Regions from separate parts of the Homo sapiens genome. Here region 2 is linked to region 1. Evidence: fine-mapped QTL for protein levels in blood plasma. A gene starts in region 1. The other region holds a variant in brackets. All regions are shown on one strand. Distances are between the middles of the regions. Region 1 holds the start of CFI (complement factor I). Region 2 overlaps CFI (complement factor I).

What was found. PIP is the posterior inclusion probability: the model's chance that the variant is causal. Protein levels are from antibody-based Olink assays in UK Biobank. Linkage for the fine-mapping came from a reference panel and not from the study's own genotypes, which makes the PIPs less certain.
Region 2: its variant is fine-mapped to the plasma level of the CFI protein (UK Biobank, PIP above 0.99).

The regions. Positions count from the first base shown.
Region 1 is chr4:109,795,577-109,807,965 of GRCh38, reverse strand. It overlaps CFI (complement factor I), which reads left to right and starts at 5,967. Exons shown (of 13, transcript NM_000204.5): 1 at 5,967-6,051. The coding sequence starts at 5,995. It overlaps LOC124900757 (a long non-coding RNA gene), which reads right to left and starts at 4,294. Exons shown (of 2, transcript XR_007058226.1): 1 at 4,131-4,294; 2 at 1,378-1,525.
Region 2 is chr4:109,728,544-109,740,932 of GRCh38, reverse strand. It overlaps CFI (complement factor I), which reads left to right. Exons shown (of 13, transcript NM_000204.5): 13 at 1-238. The coding sequence ends at 40. It overlaps PLA2G12A (phospholipase A2 group XIIA), which reads left to right and starts at 10,863. Exons shown (of 4, transcript NM_030821.5): 1 at 10,863-11,331. The coding sequence starts at 11,124. RefSeq lists enhancers at 9,869-10,745, 11,405-11,474 and a silencer at 10,735-11,074. The variant G/C (reference allele first, on the strand shown) is at 3,233.

The DNA.
Region 1 (12,389 bases):
ATATGATAATTCTATCATTTATTTTGCAATTATTAACTGAAATAAAGAAATTTCCTTTTTTATTTCAATTTTTTGCTATCATTGTTCCTTATAATGCTTAAAATATTTCATCTTTGAGAGCCCCTTCAAGTATTTTAATACCACCAACTAGCCTCCAATGGCTTCCTTGCTTTCTGGTACAAAATATTTCTTTCACATTTTATGCCCCAGATGTGGAATCGCCCTTTCTCCAAAGAGCCTTAGTTTTTTAAATGGAAAATGGTAAGTAGAGAAGACAATCTGCCACTAAGGAGTGCTCATTGCTTCTGGATTGTTAGGACTTCTAGGCCCTATCAGTGGACACAGTGGACAACTAGAAGGTAATTATTTTTAGAAAGAAAAAAAACTGAGGGTCATAGCGGTATTTCCAATTCAAAGTTAAGACTACAGGGTTTCCATTTCTTTGAATTTAAACTTGTGTTTGTCTTACCCTGAAATTCTTATGACATTAGCATAATTATTTATTTGCCTTAGCCTCCATATATATATATATATATATATATATATATATATATATATATATGCTGTCAAGTAAGTATTATTATTAATGGTAAGATTACTGAATACTACTCAAGATTTTGTATCAGTTTGCTAATATTTTGTTTAGAGTTTATGCATCTATATTCATGAGTGAGGTTGGTCTTTTTATTGTGCTGTACCTCTGCTTTTGTAGATTCTGATTATAGAGCTCTGCCTTCAATGACTGCAGGAGAAGGGTGGGATATGAGGCCTCAAGGGTTTGCCTATGGCTTGCCTCTTAAGTTCAGAGACTCCCTTAACTTCATGGAGGCTGGTGTCATCTAGAATGCTTCTCTGCTTCTGCCTCAGTGTCCACTCAAGGGGTTCTGGGTTAGAACATGTGCTATAGAGAGCCTTACTGTAGGCTTTAGCCTGGAGTAAATGCTCAAGTTACCCCCGAGTGGGGCACTGGCTCAAATGTTCTTCCCTTTATTTATTAATTACTTAGTCTATCACTTATCTCAGATTCTACTGTTTCTATTTATTCTATGGTCTTTCTTATTTTGGATATCTCGTTGTCACCTATATGAATTTGACACTTCTTAAACTCCTTTAAGTTTTGCAGTTAATCTTTTCCTGTCTATTATATGTATTCTAGTAATTCCTCACTGTTTATGTCCTATTAATGAATCCTTCTTCATTTTTCAATGGTGCAATGGAATTACTTTTATTTTTATATTTATTTTCATTGAGATCATAGGAGGAAAGAGACTTAAACTGAATAAAATTTCAGTCCTCATGAGCACTTTACATTTTCTTTTTGTTAACTACTGTATTGGTCCATTCTTGCACTGCTATAAAGAAATACCTGAGACTGGATAATTTATAAAGAAAAGAGGTTTAATTGGTTCGTGGTTCCACAGGCTGTACAGAAAGCATGATGCTGGCATCTGCTCCGGTTCTGGGGAGGCCTCAGGAAACTTACAATCATGGCAGAAAGCAAACGGAAAGCACGTGCATTACATGGCTGGAGTAGGAGCAAGAGAGAGGGGGCATTTTAATCAGAAAGGATCAGAAACAGTTCTCATTCACATGGAATGGGCAACATATACACTTAAAGTTTTCCCAGGCCTTATCTGCCACCTTCTGATATAATATAATATGCAGAGATCTGGAGCATCTGGATTTCCCATAAGACACCATTGTTTTTCCATTGATAGCATTATCTTGATCAGAGGAGATGAGGAAGTAGCATGCTAAATACTTTGGTAAGACAGATGTGCTCCAGAGGGTAGGAAATAAAGCCTGGCACATCGGTAAAATTTTTAGGAAACCAGTGTTCAGGAACGTGCTAGCACATCCTCTTTAATGTAAAAGACAAATTATTGTATCTTGTACTTTCTTTAACAAAGAAGGAAGCACAAAATCTGATGAGGCTTTTTGGACTCTGGGAGCAAATATTCTGCAGTAGGGAATACTGCTCCAGCTGCCAAAGCAGAAATGGCTTCTGCAGTGGTCCAGCAGACTCTATGGCATCAGAAGTCTCAGTGATGGGGGAAAAAATGCTGTGTGGTGTTTGAGGAAGATCCTGTGGGAGAACCACAATATAGGACCTCAGGGTTCTGGAGCAAGGCCATGCCATCTGCAGCAGAGAATTGTGTGTCTTTTAAAGACCAATTTGTATATTACTGGTTCCTGGTAAATGTAGAATAATGAATCACAGGACACTACATCACCATACGGCCAGAACTGCCCATTATGATCTGGATCCAAATGGACCCGCAAAGTATAAGGACAAGCAGGCCTAGGAAAAATGTATTGTAAGATAGAAGTGTGACATCCAGAGCCAAACACAAACAGGACCAGAGGTATGAGCAATGTGCATAAACAGGTAGCAGGTAGCCCAGACTGCCCCTGTCCCCAGCATCCAAACAGTTGCACTCATGGCCCTTCCTTAGCTCACACCTATAGCTCCCTGGGGAATTTGGTATGACCAGCTGAAGGAGGAGAGAAAAGGTCACATTTTGTTTACAGATGGGTTGGCTTGGTATATAGGCAAGTTAAAAATAGACAGAGGCAGCTTTACAGCCACACTTTGGAGTGGTTTTGAAAGACAGTGGTGAGAGAAAGTCCTCCCAAAGGGCAGAGCTGCAGGGGGTACACCTGGTCATCCACTTCGTGTGGAAAGAGAGGTGGCCTGAGGCTAGACTTATATAGAATCACAGGCAATAGTGATTTCCTGATCATCTTTTGTTCCTGAAATGAAAAATATTCAAAGATCAAGAGCAAAAAGTTCTGGGAGGCAAACAGCAACTTTAGCCTGAGAAGTGAATGGTAACCAAGGGTTCAGACCACTCCTGAAAGAGACCGTGGGTCATGTCATCAGGTACGTCACTGAGATCAGCAGAGGTGGGAGGTCGGAGTGAAGAGAATCTAGAATGGATATGTGTACATACAGGACTGGGCATGAAGTATACAAATCTTTGTATCATGGCCAGGCACGGTGGCTCACGCCTGTAATCCCAGCACTTTGGGAGGCCGAGGCAGGTAGATCACAAGGTCAGGAGATCAAGACCATCCTGGCTAACACAGTGAAACCTCATCTCTACTAAAAATACAAAACATTAGCCGGGCGTCATGGCGGGCGCCTGTAGTCCCAGCTACTCAGGAGGCTGAGGCAGGAGAATGGCATGAACCCGGGAGTCGGAGCTTGCAGTGAGCCGAGATCACGCCACTGCACTCTAACCTGGGTGACAGAGCGAGACACTGTCTCAGAAAAAAAAAAAAAAAAGAGAGAGAGAAAAAAGAAAAAGGAAAAAAAATCTTTGTATCACATGTTAATGCCTACTAGAAAGCATCCACCAAAGAAAAGGCACTAAATAACCAACAAAATGGCTCAACCAGTTTGGCTCAACAAAACGATTGAGCCAAAATGACTGAGTCTCAGTCATCAGCCACCCCACTGCTGGCACGATGGGCACAAGAATGAAGTGACCGTGGTAACAGAGATAGAGGCCACCCATGAGGCCAATAGCACAGACCCCGAGGCTTATCTAGCTCCCATCATTAACAAATGCCCAACCTGACAGCAGCTGACACTAATACTGTCCCCACAAGATGGCACAATTCCTCAAGGAGACCAACTAGTCACTTAGTGGCAAATTAATTACATCTGATTCTTTCACTCTTTGGAGGGTCAGTGGTCTATTCTTACAGGAATAGACATATTTGAGGTATGAGTGTGCCTTTCTTGCCTGCAGGGCCTCCATTAGCACCATAATCCAGAGAATTATAGAGTGCTTAATTATCTAGCAAAGATCACATCCTGCCAGACAAGGGTGCCCACTTTACAGCAAAGCAGGCCCAGGAGTGGGCCTGTGATCATGCAATCCCCTGGTCATATCACATACCACACCACTCAGAAGCTGGTGGACTTACAGAATGTTATAATGGGCTGCTGAGGACAGAGCTGAGGTGCCAGTTAAATGCAAAACTTTGTGAGAATGGGGTGCTATCCTCCAGGAAGCAGTATATACATTCAATCAAAGACTTTCATATAGCATTATGTTCCCAATAGGAAGAATACCTGGGTCTGGGAACCAAGGAATAAAGGCAAGAATTACCACACTTACCATCACCACCATTGACCAACTGGGGGCTTTGTGCATCTTGTCTCCACAGTTGTAGACTCTGCAGGGTTCGTTATCTTGGTCTCCAAAGGACTATACTTTCACCAGGGGCAAGCAAGAGTCCCATGGAATTATAAACCAGAGCTGTTGCCTGGGGTACGCTGGGCTCTTTGTGTCTAGGAACTAGCAAGAAAGAGTCAGAATCCACAAGGGTAATTGGCCCTGATCATTCCGAGGAAGTAGGGCTGCTATTACTATAATGTGGGCAGGGAGGAAGATGTGTAGAACCCACATAACCTACTGGGGTACCTCTTATTTTTTGCTTTTTTTGGTTTCTTTTTTAAGAGAGGGTCTCTCTTTGTCACTTAGGCTAGAGTGCAGTGGTGCAATCATGGCTAACTGCAGCCTCAACCTCTCCCTGTGTTGCCCAGGCTCATCTCAAACTCCTGGCCTCAAGCAATCCTCCTGCCTTGACCTCCCAAAGTGCTGGGATTACAGGAGTGAGCCACCATGTCCAGCCTGCCTCTTGTGACAGTAGGGATAAAAATGGCAACTTTTGCCTGAGAAACAAAAGGTAACCAGGGGCTCAGACCACTCCTGAAAGAGAGTGTGGGACATGTCATCCAGTAAGTCACCGAGACCAGCAGAGGTGGGAGGTCAAGGTAAAGGGAATCTAAAATGGATAGGAAGGGGGCCAAGGGTAAGTTTCAACTACAGCCCCAAGATCAACTGCAAGGGTAGGAGCTGTAGTTTTTCCCATTAACTTCCTCTTCTAAGTTTTCTCTCAAGAATAGGGACCCACTGAAATGTTTAAGGAGCCACTCCTGGAGTGTATATGGAACATAGATCTAAGAGGTGCAAGTATGTACTCTGAAAGACACAGAGATGAGTTTCCCAGAACCCTTGTCAAGGAAGGTCTTGCTACCTGGCTGTAAAGAGTGTAGTCAGAAGATACCTCCTCCTGATAGCACATAACTGTCAGATCCTTCTGTGTCTGCCTTAGCTACAGAAAACTGTCTCACCTAAGTGTATGCCCTTCCTGGGCAATATATAGTAGGGGACCAAGCAAGGCAGAATATAATGGCCCAGCCATTTATACTGAAATCAGGGGCACTGTGACAGGTCACACTCACTCCAGTTCAACTTCTACCTCTGTTCACCCCTGCTTCCCCTCCCTTCCTTGTATGGATATCGATCCCTAACAAACACTTGTGCCCCACACTCACTGTCTCAAGTCTGCTTCTGATGAACCCAACTGTGTCAGCATTTCTGCTATCACAGATTTATTTCATAAATAGATAAACCCTGCATGATAGTTGGTACTGGCACAAGAATACTTGTTTTTAAAATTTCTTGTACTCCAAAAATACAATTTGATCACAGCACAACAAATGCATGGTAAAGAAGCTGGTTTCTAGAGTTTTAAATGTATTTTGCAGCCTTCACTATATGGTCTACTTTTATTCTTACTGTCTCCTAGTCTTCAACCTTAAGTTTAAAAAATTATATTTTTACTGTACAAAAAAAAAACCAAAAAATTGCTTCCAATATAATTTCTGTCTTCCCTGGAATACAGAATTGAGTCATTGCAATTAACAGGGTGGGAGGAAATCAGTCTCTTCTGGTGGAAACAAGTTCCTATTGGTCACCTCCCTCAGCTCTTTAATGGGAAGGCCATTTTTTGGTTTCAGTTACGGTAAATCTCTCTGGATTTCAGCCAAATTCTTTCAGAGTTCAAAAGTACAAAGCTCTTTAGGAGGTTTGTTCTTTTGAAACATTTTTTCAGAGGTTAAAAATTAAATTTCAAAAGAATACCTGGAGTGGAAAAGAGTTCTCAGCAGAGACAAAGACCCCGAACACCTCCAACATGAAGCTTCTTCATGTTTTCCTGTTATTTCTGTGCTTCCACTTAAGGTTTTGCAAGGTAAGTAATTCAACCTTTATGCAAACAATTTTAATTGATAATTTAAAGGTTGTAAAAACATAGAAAATAATCTTAAATATATAATTTTGATTTAAATATTACATAGTTCAGTTACAACAATGCCACTCTATAGTCAGCAACAAATGTTTTATGTTAATATCTTGATAAAAGTGATTTTTTAAAAATAGTTCTTTTTATGTGCTTATATATGCAGAGGCATTGAACTGAACAAGAATTTTACTAATACAAGGCTGTGATTTACTGTAATTGTAGTAAATCAAAAATATTTACCAGGCTCCTCCTGTGTGTAAGGTACAGTGCTACGAAGACAGTGAGACTGATCTCTTCCTTCAACAGCCTCTTAGTACGCTCTATAGTTATAGAAAGGGGAAATAATAAGCAAATTTGAAACATCTGAAAACACAAAAGTGCAAGTTACAAGACAGTATATATTTAATTGTCAAAAGTGATACAAATATGTGGTAAAGGACTTCAATGAGAGGACAAATCACTTCATGCTGAGAGGTCATGAAGAGATTATAGATCAAGTAGGATTTGAGCTGAACGTTTAATTCTGTATTACATGTGATCAGTGGTGAGAAAGAGGAGTGATTTCCAGCTTCTTTAGCCAGGAAAAGCAGCAAGTGCTACCATAGGAAGGCAGCAATGCACTAGGCCCCTCCAAATAAATGAATCCATTTGATCAGAATGAAGGCTTTGTGGGCTACAAAGGAACTCGAAACTGAAATGACATATTTTATTGAAGTTAGAGTGTCATCTATTAAGGTGAAAAATGTTTAAAATATTTTGGATACTTATTGATGATTGCCAACTTTGGTGGCAATCCAAAACTATCTTGTCTTAGTGCCAGCTTGTAGAAGAAAATATTTAAAGAAAACTACTTAAGAAAACACACTTTAAGATTCTTGTAACTTCTAAAATAGTTGCCATCATTGCAATGTTTATAATAGAGAATAAATGGAAATAACTAAATGCTTATTAATAAGACACTGGTTAAATTATTGTATATCCAAAATTGAACTATTACATAGCCATTGAAATGACATATTTATCTAAATAAAAAGTCCTTACTACAATTTTATTTTTATTGAAGAAAAACACACACACACATATGTATGTGTGTTTATATGCATATATATAAATGCATACTTATACCTACTTATATATATGACTAAAAGATCTTACAGTGTATGTATCAAACAGTTAATAGTTGCTATCATTGGCTAATAAGATTACTGGTGATTCTATTTTCTGTTTTCGGTTTTACTGAACCTACTCAGACAAGGAAACTAGGGGATTCAGAAAAGATGGAAAAGAAACCCATAGCACAGTGGGAGTGGCTGCTGGGGCCTTCTAATGGGGGGAATAACCAGAGGATGTTCAACAACAAGGAAGCTGACTAGGTGTGGGGGTTCACGCATGTAATCCCAGTACTTTGGGAGGCTGAGGCAAGAGGATTGCTTGAGCCCAGGAGTTTGAGGCTGCGGGGAGCTCTGATCATGCCACTGTATTCCAGCCTGGGTGACACAGCAAGATCCTGTCTCAAAAAAAAAAAAAAAAAAAAAAAAAAAACAGAGAAGCCAAATATTTCAGTCAACATGATTACCTACCATAATTGTGCTGTGACGTAATCACCAACTGATACCCTAAATTTTATTTTACCCTAAAATTTTATTACAAACTCAGGCACATATGGGTGGCATTTTAGAGAGAAAGAACTGGGGTAATGTTAAGCAGAATGACAACATCCTGGAAACAAGGGTGGCACACAGGAGGGTGTGCAGTGCAAGTGATGGCAGCGGAAATGGCAGAGTAGGCAGATCCACCAAAACCAAAAACCAAAAATCCATTTCTACAGAAACCAAAGGGAAGCTGTCAGAACCAACTTTATTTAGAACTCTGGAAAACAGTCAAAGGTTTATAGCACCTAAGAAAATGTTGAATGCAGGAACAGGCAACTAAAAATGGTATGAAAGCTTAGTAGCATTTTGCGTGTCTGTCCTTTGTGTCCTTGCCCCATACCCTCCCTAATTTGGCAGTGGTCTTGAAGGATATCTGAGTACATAAAATAGCCTTAACACAATAACAACAAATTTTGGTTTATTAAAACAAGTTCACACATTGTCATTAAAAAGACATTTTGAAATTCACTGTATTCTCATTACCTTAGTTTGCAAATGTTAAAGCAATTTTCTTCTAAAAATACAAACTGTTTCTCTTACTATGCAGAATATTATCCTAATCACTTACCACACTTCTATCACCCTATCACTTATAATACTGTTGTAAACCAACCACTAAGTGGCCTTTCCACTTACAATTTCTTCATGTATCTTAGATTTCAGTTTCTTAATCTTCCATGGGAAAGTATATAAATCTGTCTATCTAATATGGAAGAAATTCTCCTAACTCTGGTGCAGCAAACACTGACCATGTACGTTTCTCACTCAGGGAGGGACCCGGTTCCCTAGCACTGGAAAGAACAGAGAAGACCTTATTCAAAAATAATGTGTTTGTCTTTTCTATCCTAAGGCCTTCCTGTAGGACAGACCCCAGGCACTTGTCTTGGTTTCACCTAGCTCAGAACTCAGAGCAGAAAAGCATTAATATTACAAAGCACAGGCATTGCAAGATTAATGAGCAATCTCAGCTGTCTGGGGCAAAGGATTACAGTGGAGGCACACAACAGAGCACCAAAGCATGGGGAAAAACTAAGATCCTATGGAAAATTAGGGCATTCAAAAGTGCCTGTGTGTATTGGGGAGTTTAGGAAGCCCCATACATGCTCAGGGCAGGATACATGCTCAGAAAGACCTCAGAAGACTCTGAGCCTGCACCTCTGGTGGTTGTCTAAGTTCAGTGCAAGTATGAAGTGAAGGCTAAGGTAGAGTTGCAAATGGCCTGGATGAGTGAGTGCCCAGGACAGAACCAATCTGCAAAGACTGGGAGAGATTTTGAGATTTTGATTTGTTTTTCTGGGTTTCTTTTTCTTCTCTCTCTCTCTCTCCCTCCTCTTGCATTGAAGGAAATCTCTGTCTAAATACTAGCTGAATATAAGTCAAAGGAACAGACTTCAAAGACCACATGTGATAAAGAATAGACTTGCCAAAAGTAGTTTAGAAAAGTCATCAAACAAACACCAAGCAACCAAAGCAAACCCCAAGCAACCAAAACAAACCCCAAGCAGAAGGAAGAGTCTGATTTCAAGAGTTACTGTAAGAGTCAAAGTGTCAACCAAAAATTTTCAACCAAAAATTATGATGCATGCAAAGATATGAGAAAGTATGGACCATTTACAGAAGAAATGAACATAATCTGTTCCAGAAGAACCACAAACTTTGGACTCACTAAACAAAGACTTAATGGTCTTTTTAAAAAAAAAAAACACTTTATTGAGTTATGATTGACATATAATAAACTCTACATATTTAGTGTACATAACTTGATGAGTTTGAGTTTGGAGATTAGTATATGTCTGTGAAAATATCACAACATATGCCATAAACGTATTCACCACTTCTAAAAGTTTCCTCTCACTCTCTTTATTTATTATTTTGTGTGTGCATGTAACAACTCTTAACAAAGAAATTGTGCTCTTAGCAAATTTTTAAGTATACAATACAGTATTATGAACAATAGGCACTATTCTGTAGCATAGATCTCTAAGAATTATACATCTTGACCTTTGACTAACACTTCCCTGTTTCCCCCTCACCCAGTCCTTGGCAACCACCATCCCACTCTCTGGTTCCATGAGTTTGACTATCTTAGATTCCTAATATAAGTTGTATTATGTGGTATTTATCCTCCTGTCCCTGCCTTGTTTCACTTAGATTAATGTCCTCTAGGTTCATCCATATTGTCACAAATGGCAGGATTTCCTTCTTTTTTAAGGCCAAATAATATTTCATTGCATGTATATACCACATTTTCTTTATCAATTCTTCCACAACTGTAGAAGAATTTCCCTTTCTGCATATCCTCAGCTACATTTGTTACCTTTGGTTATTTTGACAATAACCATCCTAACTGGTGTGTGATTTTGATTTAAATTTCCCTAATGGTTAGTGATATTAAACACCTTTTCAAGTACCTATTGACCATTTACATATCTTATTTGAAGAAATGTCTATTCAGCTCCTTTGTCCACTTTTTAAAGTAGACTATTTGGTTCTTGGCTTTTGATTTGTAGGAATTCCCTATGTATTTTAGATAGATATTAACTTCTTACCAGATGTATAGTTTGCAAATATTTCTTCCATTGTATATGTTGTCTTTTCATTTTGCTGTGCAGAAGGTTTTTAGCTTGAGGTAGTCCCACTTGTCTGTTTTTGCTTTTGTTGCCTGTGCTTTTGTCGTCATAGTCAAGATATTATTGCCAAGACTAATGTCAAGAAGCTTATCACTTATGTTTTATTCTAAAAGTTTTATGATTTCAGGTGTATGTGTAAGTCTTTAATCCATTTTGAGTTGATTTGTGTGTATGGGGTAATATAGGGGTCCAATTTCAGTTTTTGCATGTGGATTTCCAGTTTTCCCATTACCACTTATTAAAAAGACTATTCTTCACCCATTATATATTCTTGGCTCCCTTGTTGAAGAGCAGTTGACTATCTATGCATGGTTTTATCTCTGAACTTTCTACTTTGTTCCATGAATCTATATGTCTGTTTTTATGAGAGTACCATATTGTTTTGATTACTGCAGCTTTGTGATATTTTTTGAAATCAGGAAGTGGGATGCCTCTGGCTTTGTTCTTCTTGCTCAAAAAATTGTTTTGGCTATTTTGTGTCTTTTGAAATTCCATGTAAATTTTAGAATTATATTTTCTATTTCTGTAAAAAAATGCCTTTGCAATTTTGGTAGGGATTGTATCAAATCTGTAGATTATTTGTAATAGTATAAACATTTAACAATATTAATTCTTTCAGTGAAGGAATGTGAGTTGTCTTGCCATTTCTTTGTGCCTACTTTAATTTCTTTCATCAGTGTTTTACAGTCTTCAGGGTATGAGTTTTTCACCTTGTTGGTTAAATTTATTTCTAAGTGCTTTATTCTTTTAACTGCTATTGTAAATGAGATTGTTTTGTTTTGTTAAAGACAGGGTTTTGCACTGTTGCCCAGGTGGGAATGCAATGGCAAATTATAGCCCACTGCAGTCTTCGCCTCCTGTGCTCAAGCTACCCTCCTACCCCAGCCTCTCAAGTAACCATGACCAAAGGTGTGCACTACCATGCCAACTAATTTTATTTTTTGTAGTGATGGGACCTTGCTATGTTGCCCAGACTAGTCTCAAACTCCTGGCCTCAAAGGATCCTCCCACCATGGCCTCTCAAAGCACTGGGAAATAGGCATGAACTGCTGCACCTGGCCTGAGATGGTTTTCTTAAAATTCTTTCTAGGACAGTTCATTATTGATGTATAGAAACACCACTGATTTTTGTATGTTGTTTTTGTATCCTGCAGCTTTAGTGTTGCTGTTTATCATCTTTTCATTTCAACTTGAATAAAACCTTTTATCATTTCTTGTAAGGCAGGTGATGTATTTCCTGTTTTGATTTATTAGGGAAAGTCTTTATCTCTCTTTCATTTTTAGAGGATAGTTTTTCTGGGTGTAATATTCTTGGTTGGCAGTGGTTTTGGGGTTTTTTGTTTCTTCGTTATGACACTTTGAATATATTATCCCACTCTTTCCTGGCCTGCAGTGTTTCTGAAGAAGAAGAAATTTGAAGAATAAATCCACTGATAGTTTTATAGGGTTTTCTTTGTATATGACAAGTTGCTTTTCTCGTTCTTTCAAAATTGTCTTTTTGTCTTTGACATTTGAGAATTTGATTATAATGTGTCTCAGTCTAGACCTTTTTAGGTTAGATATCTTTGTGATCCTTTTGGTCCTCATGAATCCAGATGTCCATTTCCTTCCCTAGATTTGAGATGTTTTCAGGCATTGTTAATTTAAATAAGCTTTCTTTCCTTTTCCCTTTCTCTTCTCCTTCTGTAAATAACATAATGCATTCATTCGTTGGCTTGAGGGTATCCCACAAGTCCTGTAGTCTTTATACTTTTTCATTTTGTTCCTCTGACCATATAATTTCAAATAACCTGTCTTTGAGTTCACTGATTCTCTCTTCTGTTTGACTAAGTATGGTGTATGAGCTCTCTACTGAATTTTTCAGTTCCTTTATTGTATTATTTTCACCTCCAAAATTTCTCTTTGGTTCTTTTTTATGGTTTATGTTTGTTGAATATCTCATTTTGCTCATGAATTATTTTCCCCTAATTTTGTGTAGTTGTTTATCTGTGTCCTTTTATAGCTC
Region 2 (12,389 bases), 67 kb after region 1:
CCATGTAGGAAGGCCTTTTATTTCTCAGTACAATGTATAAAATTGTGATCTCTCTCTTCATTCTATTCTTTTTCTCTCAAGAGTTCCATTTAATGGAAATAAAACGGTATAATTAATAATTCTCTAGGGGGGAAAAATGAAGCAAATCTCACTGGATATTTTTAAAGGTCTCCACAGAGTTTATGCCATATTGGAATTTTGTTGTATAATTCTCAAATAAATATTTTGGTGAAGCATACAAGTTTTATTTATCAGAAAATTTTATTAAATTATCTCAATGCGGGAGTGATTTATTGACTGAAGTTACAACTAATTGAATAATGTTGGACTTACATAAGGTTGGGTTCAAATCCCAGCTCTATCACCTACTATGCCCTGGACAATTTATTGTCTTCTTTGTGTCTCCTTTTCCACCTATAAAATGGAAACTGGAATTCTGTGAAAATGAAACTACATACTTACATAAATGTTTGGCATAGTACCTGTCACAGGGTAATAACTGACTTCACAGCTCTTGTCCCATTTCCCTGCTTCCTCTTTATTTCTTTCTCATCTTTTCTCTCTTTCCTTCTTTCTTTCTCTCTTTCTCTCTCTTTCTTTCTTTTTCTCTTTTCTTTCTTCTCTTTCTCTCTTTCTTTTTTTGAGGCAAAGTCTCCCTCTGTTGCCCTGGATGGACTGCAGAAGTGCCATCATAGCTCACTGCAGCCTTGAACTCCTGGGCTCAAGCAATCATGCCACCCCAGTCTCCCGAGTAGCTGGGATTACAGGTGCACACTACCATGCCTAGCTAATTTTAAATTTTTGTAGAGAGGCATCTTGCTTTGATGCCCAGGCTGGTCTTGAACTCCTAGGCTCAAGGGATCCTCCCACCTTGGCCTCCCAAAGTGCTGGGATAACATGCGTGAGCCACCACACCAGGCCCCTGCTTCTTTAAGTATTAACATTTCTTGAAAAATTAGCCTTTGCTCCCCCATTTCACAAGCATTCCTTGACCCTCTCTCTAAACCTATCCACAGATAATTCAATACAACCACCTACCTCCATGGTGTCAGACCTCACAGTCACTTCTGTTCTCATCGCAGCAGCATTAGCCCCTCAGGGCATCACACTCCTCCCTCACTGCTGTTCTCAGCCTCTTCCTTCTGGTTGCTTCTCTCACTTTGCCTTTCCCTGGTAATCTCATCTAGACTACGTTTTAAATCCTGCCTACAGTCCGGTGACTCACAAATCTGGATCTTCAGCTCTGACCTTTCCTAGAACCTCAGATTAGTATATGCCACTGAACACTAGTATATACCATTGCCATGTGAATATCTAGTAACATTTCAAAAGAAAAGTGGTCAACCCAAACTCAACAGTTGCACTTTCTTAACCTACAGAAAATAGCACCCCCACCCGACCCCAAGGCTATTGTAGGTGCCCAGTCTCCCTCTGTCACACCACCTACTTTAATCTCAGCATAGTACTTTTCTTCCCCCAGTGTATTCTGTTTTGATTGGGTTGTCTACCTCTTCTCAACACTGTCTCCTCCAACTACAACATAAGACACATGACAAGAGAGACCTCATTTGTCTTCCTTCTGGCTACATCCCTACCACTTGCCTCATAGAGGCTGCTCAGTGAATAAACATTAGCTACTCTTTTTTTTTTTTTTAAGCACAGCTATCTTTATCCTGAAGACAGACATATATGTTTCACATAAATATTCCCTTTATTATTTTATTTAGGGCCAGTCTTGGATAGATCCCTACTGATTTAATAATATAAATACCCATTTTTACATATATTCCAAAATCAGTTACTGCCCAGATTTTCTTTTAAAAATTGTGGTAAAATATGTATAACATAAAAGTAACAATTTTAACTATTTGTAAGTGTAAAGTTGAGTGACATTAAATACATGCCCATTGTTGTACAATCATTATCACCATCCATCTGCAGAAAATTTTCATCTCCCCAAATTGAAACTTCATATCTATTAAACAATAACTCACCACTCCTCCCTCCCATGCTGCCCAGATTTTTCATCCATTAAATTCAGGAAAGTATTTGGTTATTTATTGCTGGGAAGTTCCCCTTCCAGTCTCTCATGCTGTTGCCGTCAGACAGGATTGGACCAGAGTTATCACGAAGGCTTATTCACTCATGTGTTTGGTGCCTGGGCTGGGCGGACTTAGACAGCTGGGGCTTCTCAGATATGTCTCTCTGCACTCTCCCCATGGGCTCTTAACATGGCAGGGCCGGGGGCACCAGACTTCCTACATAGCAGCCGATGAGCCTCCCAAGAGAAACTGCAGAACCTGCATGGCCTTCTCTAACCCAGCTTTGGAAGTCCCTTAGCATCACAAAGACCTGCCCAGGCTCAAAGGAAAGGAAATAACCCATCTCTTGATGGCGGCAGGGAGGAGGTGTATCAAAGAATTTATGGACATATTTGAAAACCACCTTGTCCTGACTCAGCAATCCGGGAGCAACGCAGCACCTTAGAATATGTCTGTGTATGAGATAAAAAGAGAAAAGTGGCTGGGCGCAGTGGATCATACCTGTAATCTCAGCACTTTGGGAGACCAAAGTTGGTGGATCATTTGAGGTCAGAAGTTTGAGACCAGCCTGGGCAACATAGCAAGACCCCATCTCTATCACACACAAAAAAAGCTGGGAGTGGTGGTGCACATCTGCAGCCCCTGCTACTTGGAAGGCTGAGGTGGGAGGATCATTTGAGCCCAGGAGGTTGAGGATGCAGTGAGCTGTGATTGCAGCACTGCACTCCAGCCTGGGTGACAGATCAAGACCTCGTCTTAAAAAAAAAAAAAAAAAAAAGAAAAGTACTCCAGTGCTACAAGGTGGGAAACCCAGCATATAGGGCATCCTCAGCCAATCTAGGAAGGGGGCCCCCAAAAGGGCCAAGCCAGTCTGCACAGTGACCTAGCATCTGGCAGCTTCACAGAAAAGTAGACCAGGGTCAAGCCTTGAAGGGTGAAAGTCAGCCCTCTGAAGCGACTCTATGTGACAGAGACCAGGAACAGCAGGAGTGAGATGACCTGACTCCAAGCTTCTCCTAGTTTAGAGGTCTGTCTCAGCGCTCCTAATTCCAGACTACAGAAGCCAATCTAACTGGTTTAATGAAAAAATAGATTTATTCAAAGATATTATGCAGTTCACAGAATTTCCAAAAGAGCCAGAGAATTGGAGTCTACACATCTGGAAATAACGCTCACAGACCACACTGCAG[G/C]ACTGCTCCATCAGAGACTACCATGGCCACTAGCATGGGTCCCAGTCTCCACGTACAGCTTGTACTGCAGAGCCTGGGCACTGGACATTGCTGCTTCTGTGAGCTCGCCTGAAGGTGGCCAGGGACACAACTCATTGGATGTGGAGCTCTGCCATCGTCTTATATTTAACCCTGGTTTCAGAGCTCTCTGTCTTACAAGAGAAATGGGAAAATAAATTATGCGGCTGCACCTTGCCAGGTACAATGGTAAGGAAAACTAAAGGGAGATCTAGAAACCAGCCTGACATATTAAAGAGGGCTTCTGCAGAGGTGAGCTTAGTCTGAATTATGGAAGAACTTTCCAGGCAGATACAAATGCAAAGGCCCTGCAGTGTGAGGAGCTAACCACACACAAGGATGGAGAGCAGTTCATAGTGACTGGAGCCCAGGGTGCAGCTAAGGAGCTGGAGAGGGGGAAAGGCCATACCAGGGAGAGCCTCATACCAAAGAGTTTGGACCATTAAAGGATTCTAGGAAGTTCAAGCTGGAGACAGCAAGGAAGATGTATTGGAAGTGGGTGAGAGAGGGTATGGAAGATGGTTAAGACACTCTTGGAGTAATCAAATGAAAAATAATGAAGGTAGAAACTAAAGCAGGGATAAAAAGGATGGCACTGACTCTAGATATGTTGAGTGAAATAGATGGCATTTGGGGACAAATAGATTACAGTACTAGGGAGAGGGATTTGAGACTAGGATAATTCCCAGTCTCTTAGATGGTGAGGTGATTGGTGTTGCCACTGAGTACAGAAAGGAAGGAAGTAGAGGAATGGAATCAGATTTAGACAGTTAGGGATATTTTGAAGTTGTGATGTCTAAGGAAGCCCAGTGAAGGTGTACAGTACGTGATAGGAAATACGAAGCTGAAAATCAACCAGAGGTTTGGAAGTAGCCAGGAACCCTAATTAGAAGAACTACATACGGACTCTGTCCTGATGGCTTAAAACCCTGCAGTCTCAACTAAGTGGGTTCTTTCCATCCCTCCTGTGTGCCAAGCAATCTTACATTGTGCATACAAAGATACCTTGAAAATATCTTTTTGATCAAATTTTCTTGATGGTAGACCCCCCACCATACCCAAGCAGAGGATCATTGTCTTCAACATATTATGGAACAAGCCCATGCTCATAGATCTGGTGCAGCCATCTCTTGCCCTTCACTTTGTCCCAGCTTGAAAGCTATTAATGCCATTGACTTTCTAGCCAAAGGCTGGAACCTAGTACTTATTTCTCTTTAACTTAAGTTCCCTTTTAGAGATGAAACTTCTAGCCTTGGTGCGGTGGGAAATTAAAGAAATAAAGAAAAATAAAATTAAAAAGAGAAAGAAGTAAGCTTTCCTGTATTAGGCTGACTCATCCCAAAGGCAGTAGCAGGCAAGGCCCAGACCCAGGAAAAAGAGTCTTGATAAACACTATCTAAGAAGCTAGGACACAAAGGAATGTGCTCTGGAGACTCTCCCAGCACTCCCTCAACATAAGGAGAAGAAAAACAAATTTTCCTTTCTCTTATAGTATGAGTTTATAGATTTCTGTTCTCTGTAACTAGCAACTTCAAGCATTCTGTTTTATCTAAGTAGTGGAGTGAAGGTCATAAACTGTCTGAGCAGGCCTGAGATACAGCCACCTGGACGCCATAGTGAAGGTCATGGAATAAGCTGTGCTAGGCACTAAAGGAAAACCTAGATAACTGACATCTGGGTTGCACAGCAACGGTCATGTGTAATCCTGAGTTATGAACCTGTCACAATTTGATTAATTGCTCTGCCTCTGTATCCTTGCTTTCACACCACTGTAACTGTAAGCCTGCTTCAAGCTAGCCCACTCCCTTTTTGAAGTGTGTATAAAAGTCAAGTGCTGTCTTTGTTCTAGGCCCAGTTTTCCAGATGTAAGTCTGAGTACACTCAATAAAGATCCTCCTGCTTTACCCCGAAGTCTCTCTCATCCGCCTGATTCCCGCGACATTGGCACTAGCCATAGATTAATCATTATGGATGGAATTGCTTCACCATGTGGCTTTTATTTTCATCCTGGACAAAAATTAACCATTATGGCTGGAACTGTTTTCACCACGTGGCTTTTATTTTCATCACAACACTGCTGAGGCCATTAGTGAGACATTGGAAAATACTAAAAAATAGAAATTGCTGTTTATCATTAATATTTTATTGATTTTTGTTATTTAAAATAACACAAAGCATTGTGTAATATTGTAGTTTCCAAGCATTCTAAGTTAATGTGGTACGTTAAACCCCACAAATTTTGCATTCTCATCTCATCAATACTACCATGTTTTTCCATGATGCTCATATATATAGAAGAAACCATTTGGTGTTTCTAGAAGAGATCTGAGATCTGACTGCCTATCCTGATTATTGTTCTGGGAAGTTCTATATAGAAAATATAGTGTAGGGCTGGGTGCGGTGGCTCATGACTGTAATTCCAGCACTTTGGGAGGCCAAAGCAGGAGGATCACTTGAGCCCAAGAATTCAAGACCAGCCTGGGCAACACAGGGAGACCCCATCTCTATAATAACAATAACAAAAATTAGCCAGTCACAGTTGTGTACACCTGTATTCCTAGCTACTCAGGAGGCTGAAGTAGGAGGATTGCTTAAGCCCAAGAGTTCGAGGGTACAGTGAGCTATGATCATGCTACCCCCACCTGGGTGACAGAATGAGACTCTGTCTCTGAAAAAAGAAAAGAAAAGAAAGCCAGTCTTGGCCACCCAGAATCTCCCATTCCAAGGTATTTATTAATATATCATTCAGACAAGAATAAGCACAAATATAGTATATTTTATATTTTCATAATTTATTTTGATATTCACTGTAATTGCATTTCTTTTCTTTTCTTTTTTCTTAGACAGACTGTTGCTCTGTTGCCCAGGCTGGAGTGCAGTGGCACGATCTCAGCTCACTGCAACCTCCACCTCCTAGGTTCAAGCAATTCTCCTGCCTCAGCCTCCCGAGTAGCTGGGATTACAGGCACCTGCCACCACGCCCAGGTAATTTTTTTGTATTTTTAGTAGAGACAGGATTTCACCATATTGGCCAGGCTGGTCTCGAACTCCTGACCGTGTGATCTGCCCGCCTTGGCCTCCCAAAGTGCTAGAATTACAGGCATGAGCCACTGCGTCCTGCCTGTAATCGCCATTTCTAATTCTTTTCTTCCTCTGACTACAACTGTGTTTTCTCCCTAGTACTTCAATGAGACTCTTGTGAAGTTCACCAATAACCCCCAAGTTACTAAATCTAGTAGTCAATATCCGGCCCTCACCTTCCTCATATCAGCAGAATGGGTGGTTCTGTCTTTCTTTGACACACCAGAATATAGCACTTTTCCACTTCTGCTGCACTTGGCTGCTCCTTCTTAAGCGCCTTTGTTCTTTTTTCCTTGACCTCCTAAGACTTAGACCTTGCTCTGCTTCTTTGTGTACACTCACTTTTTAGAGGATCTCATTTAGTCCCATGTTATTTATTTATTCATTTATTTAAGACAGGGTCTTGCTCTGTTGCCAGGCTGGAGTGCAATAGCGCAATCTTGGCTCTCTGCAACCTCTGCATTCCGGACTCAAAGGATCCTCTTACCTCAGCTTCCCAAGTAGCTGGGACTACAGGCATGTACCACCATGCCTGGCTAATTTTTGTATTTTTTTTATAGAGATAAGGTTTTGCTATGTTACCCAGGCTGCTCTTGAACTCCTGGACTCAGGCGATCTGCCAGCCTTGATCTCCCTAGGTGCTGGGACTACAAGCATGAGTCACTGCGCCCAGCTAAGCCCCATGACTTTAAAAGCCATTTCTATTCTGACAACTTCCCAATGCGTTTCTAACCTTTATGCTGAACTGCAGACTCAGAATAAGCTTCTTGGATATGGTATGACTGAAATTTATTTTTAAAATTTTCCCGCAAAACCCTCTCCTTCCACAATTCTCCCCATTTCTGACAGTTAGAACTCTCTCTATCCTGTGGCTTAGGCCAAAATTTCAATGCCATCCTTGATTCCTCTTTTTCTCTCATATTCAGTCCATCAGCAAATCCCTTCTGCTCTACCATCAAGTTACATCTAGAATATGACCACTTTTCACACCTCCACTGCTCCTTTCCTGGACCAAGCCATACTTATGCCATACCTAGATTACTGTATCATAACTGACTTCCTATCTTCAGCTTCTGCCCACCACAAAGTATATATAGACAAGCTAGCCACTCTCTAGCAGGAAAGACCTGGAACACAGCTGTGGATTTGCAACTAATGATGTCTGTCATGAAAATAACAGGTTTTGCTGGTTAGATGAAAGTGTCCTGTAAAGAAGGCTCTTTTCAAACAGTTTATGCCAAAATTTGGGAAGAAAAGATGGAAGTGGGTCATCTAGAAGTTACGTGAGATGAGCTGGGCACAGTGGCTCATGTTGTAATCCCAGCACTTTGGGAGGCCAAGGCAGGGGAATGACTTGAGGTCAGGAGTTCGAGACCAGCCTGGCCAACTTGGTGAAACCCCATTGCTACTAAAAATACAAAAAATTAGTCAGGTGTGGTGGCGGGCACCTGTAATCCCAGCTACTCGGGAGGCTGAGGCAGGAAAATAGCTTGAACCTGGGAGGCGGAGGTTGCAGTGAGCTGAGATTGTGCCACTGTACTCCAGCCTGGGCAACAGAGCCAGACTCAAAAAAAAAAAATTTATATGATATGGTAAATCAGAGCATGCATCCTGTGTAGTGGCACAAGGCCCCACAGTCAAAAGGGCTCTGTACTTATTTTAATGCTCTGCTGTTATCACCTTGAAATTCTTTTTTTTTTTTTTTTGAGACAGAGTCTTGCTCTGTGGCCTCGGCTGGAGTGCAGTGGCACGATCTTGGCTCATTGCAAGCTCTGCCTCCCGGGTTCACGCCATTCACCTGCCTCAGCCTCCCGAGTAGCTGGGACTACAGGTGCCCGCCACCATGCCCAGCTAACTTTTTGTATTTTTAGTAGAGACAGGGTTTCACCGTGTTAGCCAGGATGGTCTCGATCTCCTGACCTCGTGATCTGCCCATCTCAGCCTCCCAAAGTGCTGGGATTACAGGCGTGAGCCACCGCACCCGGCCATCACCTTGAAATTCTTAATTTTTGAGCAAGGGGCTCTGTATTTTTATTTTGCACTGAGCCCTACAAATTATACAGATAGTCTGTGGTCAGTGCAGATCCCTGGTATTTAACAGCATCAATTAAGAGGAAAACGTAAACCTTGTAATTACTGCAGCAGAACAACAAATATATAATGATTAAATGTGAAAAGAATGTGAAAATAAAACTTAGAGTCTTGTTTTCTACAAAAATGGTGGTGATTCTCATGGGGAAGACAGTGGAAAGATTTGCTTGAGAGAAAGAGAACAGCTGCATCAAGCCAGAAGAACTGGCATTTGAGAATTTAATCCCTAAGGAGAGATCAGACAAAGAAAACTACGTCTGATTCCTCAGAGTATAGGCTGTAGTTAAGGTGTAAGAAATTAGATGAGATCACAAAGAAGTAAATAAATAGAGAAAGTGGGGGAAAGGAGAGGCTTTGGGTCATAACTGAGGGCTGGAACTAGGTTATTTTATTACATTCTATCCTTTCTTTTGAAAGTCTTGTCCCTGGACTAGGGAGTTGTAAGAACCAAGCCTGGTTTAAGGATTCAGGTGGTGGTATCTCAGAGGTAATCTAGTCCAACTTTCATACTTTGGAGCTGAGAAACCAATGTTCCAGAAAGCTAAGACAATGATTCTAAGTTCCCTTTTTAAAATGTATTGAAATGTGTTGTCTAAAAATTAAAAAATAAAAATATCTGTGGTATTTTGTGAAGACAGAGGCCTTGGTTTGGAGTAGATACTGTCACATGACTTCTCACCTCGACTCTTTTATTGTAAAAGAGGAAGATAATAATACCTTCCAGGGAACATTCTTCCCCCTTCTCCATTGTGGTAGGAATTAATCACTGCCCAAGACTCCTGGTTGAGGGGCTGAGTGAAGTGCAGGCAGTCTCCAGCCAGGAGCTACACCGTTTGTTGGGCTACCCTGTTTGTAGGGAGGAATGCCTTTCTATGTTTCTAACTTGCCCAAAGTCTGCATCCTTGTAAAGTAGTGTTCTGAATGTGAGCGATCATATTCATGAAGTGCCTGGCACATAGTAAGCACTCAATAAAGAGGGATGTAATTTTTATGAACTGTGCACTGAACGTTTATTATAAGCTCATTTAGTTTGTAACAAACACAAAAGGCCAAACCTAGAACTTATTGGTAATTCTTATAGAAAGGACACACCTATGCCCAATACTTACTCACTTTCTTTTTTTTTTAGAGTCTCGCTCTGTGCCCCAAGCTGGAGTGCAGTGGTGCAATCTCAGCTCACTGCAACATCCATCCACCTCCTGGGTTCAAGTGATTCTCCTGCCTCCGCCTCCCGAGTAGCTGGGATTACAGGTGCCCGCCACCACGCCCAGCTAATTTTCTGTATTTTTGGTAGAGATGGGGTTTCACCATGTCAGCCAGGCTGGTCTCGAACTTCTGACCTCAGGAGTTCCAGGCCTCCCAAGGTGCTGGGATTACAGGCGTAAACCACCGCGCTTGGTCTGCCCAATACTTTCAACATTGCTCTGGATCTTACTGTAAAATTCTTGGAAACTGCTGTGATACTAAGATAACCAGATATTTACAACTGATACAAAGTACTACTGCAATAGTTATTTATGGATCCCGCACAATGCTGGGGGCAGGGTGGTAGGTACAGAGAAACAAACGTCACTGTAACTATCAAGTTACAAAATCCCTTGAGTAGAAAAACAATGACTTCCTTAAGATTTATTTTACTTTTTACTGTATTTAAGTTTACACTACTGTTTCTTCCTTACCAGGGGAGAATTTTATGATTTTTATGTTGGCCCATTTTCTTTTTCCGGAAAGTCTAAACTAGCATTTAGCTCGTCCTGATTAGAGTCAGGCACCGCCAAGGCATGGGTTGGCATCTTCCAGATCCCGCTCCCCCAACCGCGGCCACAGCAGATCTGGAGGACCGGGAGAGGACGCAAGGAGGAAAAGCCCTGCTCTGCGAGCTGACAGCCGGACTCTGCCCACATTGCCAATGGAACCACGTCTTCAAGCCGGAAACTCAGCTGGACCTCTCGCAGCGCTCTCTGCGAGGGGGCACAGGGGTTATTTTCTCCGATGTTGTCCACACCCAGAAAAGCTTGTCTCTCGGGGCTACTGTGCTGAGCCCCGACTGGTCAGGTTAGGCCACCGGGGTTAGCTCTGCAACTCTTGCTTCACGGTTAACAGCCCGGAGAGCTTTCTTAAAAAATACCGACGCCCACTGCCACCTGGGACAACGTAATCAGGCTCCCTAGAAAAGGGGCTCAGGCCTGGGTACTTTTTAAGGTTCTCTTGTGAACCAGGACCAAGGGTCTTGGGAGGGTGCCGCGGAGACCACGTGGGCATGGAGGCCCCGCCCCCGTTTCCCGCCCCGCGCGCCCCTCCCCCGGTTCCCCGCCCCCCCCAACCCCGCCCCCGCCCCGCCCCACCCCTGCGCGTCCCGCCCCTCCCGTGCGCCGCTGACGCGCCGTGCTCCGGCGCAGGCGCACAGGGGACGGTTGCTGGCCCAGGTGAGCGGGCGCGCTGGTCCAGGTGAGCGGGCGCGTCCCCGCGACGGCGCTGCCTGCCCGAGGCGGTTCACGTAAAGACAGCGAGATCCTGAGGGCCAGCCGGGAAGGAGGCGTGGATATGGAGCTGGCTGCTGCCAAGTCCGGGGCCCGCGCCGCTGCCTAGCGCGTCCTGGGGACTCTGTGGGGACGCGCCCCGCGCCGCGGCTCGGGGACCCGTAGAGCCCGGCGCTGCGCGCATGGCCCTGCTCTCGCGCCCCGCGCTCACCCTCCTGCTCCTCCTCATGGCCGCTGTTGTCAGGTGCCAGGAGCAGGCCCAGACCACCGACTGGAGAGCCACCCTGAAGACCATCCGGAACGGCGTTCATAAGATAGACACGTACCTGAACGCCGCCTTGGACCTCCTGGGAGGCGAGGACGGTCTCTGCCAGTATAAATGCAGTGACGGTGAGGGGGCACCCGGGCCCAGCGAGGGCTCGTGCTTTCGGGGGATTGGGGTGACGGAGATCCTGGAGGTGTGAGTGACAGATGCAAGGCAGACCTTGACGGTGTCCTTCGGCTGTGGAAAAACTTAACCACTGCTAGAATCTTGCCGTTCTAGTGATTGAGCAAGCTGGGTACAAGTTCGCACCACTATTGTTAGAATGTGAGAGGTCACATTCTAACGGAGAGGTGTACCCCCCGTCCCATTTGCATTGCTTCTGAATTACCTTTTCCCCCCCTCAATTGCACCAAGTTGCCGAAGAACTTACTGACGTAGGAATCATGGGAATAGAGTGGAACAGACTGGTTTTAGCTCATTTTTGCTTCTGTAAATTGGATGAACATGCGAAGCAAACTGAGAATTTAAAAACCATGCCGTATTAACTTTCTCTATAATTGATATTAAATGGTTTTTTTTCTGCAAACCCATAGACAATAACTTGCGACCTTTGTACAGACTTTTGGTGTACTCGAGTGTTGAGAAAGGGTTCCGATAACTCTTCTTTCCTTAGATATCAGTGACCCGCCTCCTCCTCATTGTTGGTTAACGTTAATACAGTTATCTTCATTTACTCTTTTAATATTTTTTGAACTTTCTCTTTGAACCTGAGAATTTGTTTGGTGGCGGTATGAGTACTAATCAACTCAGTATTTCAGGCAGAGATAGTTCTTTTGTAGCACATTTTTGAGTGCTTAAATATTTTAATAGGTCAGAAAAATATTGGACTTTTGTTTGGAAATTGAAAATGTTAAGAGAGCAGTTGGGAGATCATGTTTCCAATAAGATTAGCCAAGGTTAGAGTCTCATTATGCTGGCAGCGGAAAATAATCGGGGATCCAGTGACTTCATTGTTGGAACCTGATTGTATAGGTGAACTTAAAAGGAACTGGTATCATGTAAACCTATGATGCCACATGCTGCCTGCAATTTTCAAGATAATTTCTAGTTTTATGTTAATAGAAGTAAAGGATGAACTGTATCTTGTATACTTTAAAGCGCTGAACAGGTGCTGAGACATGTT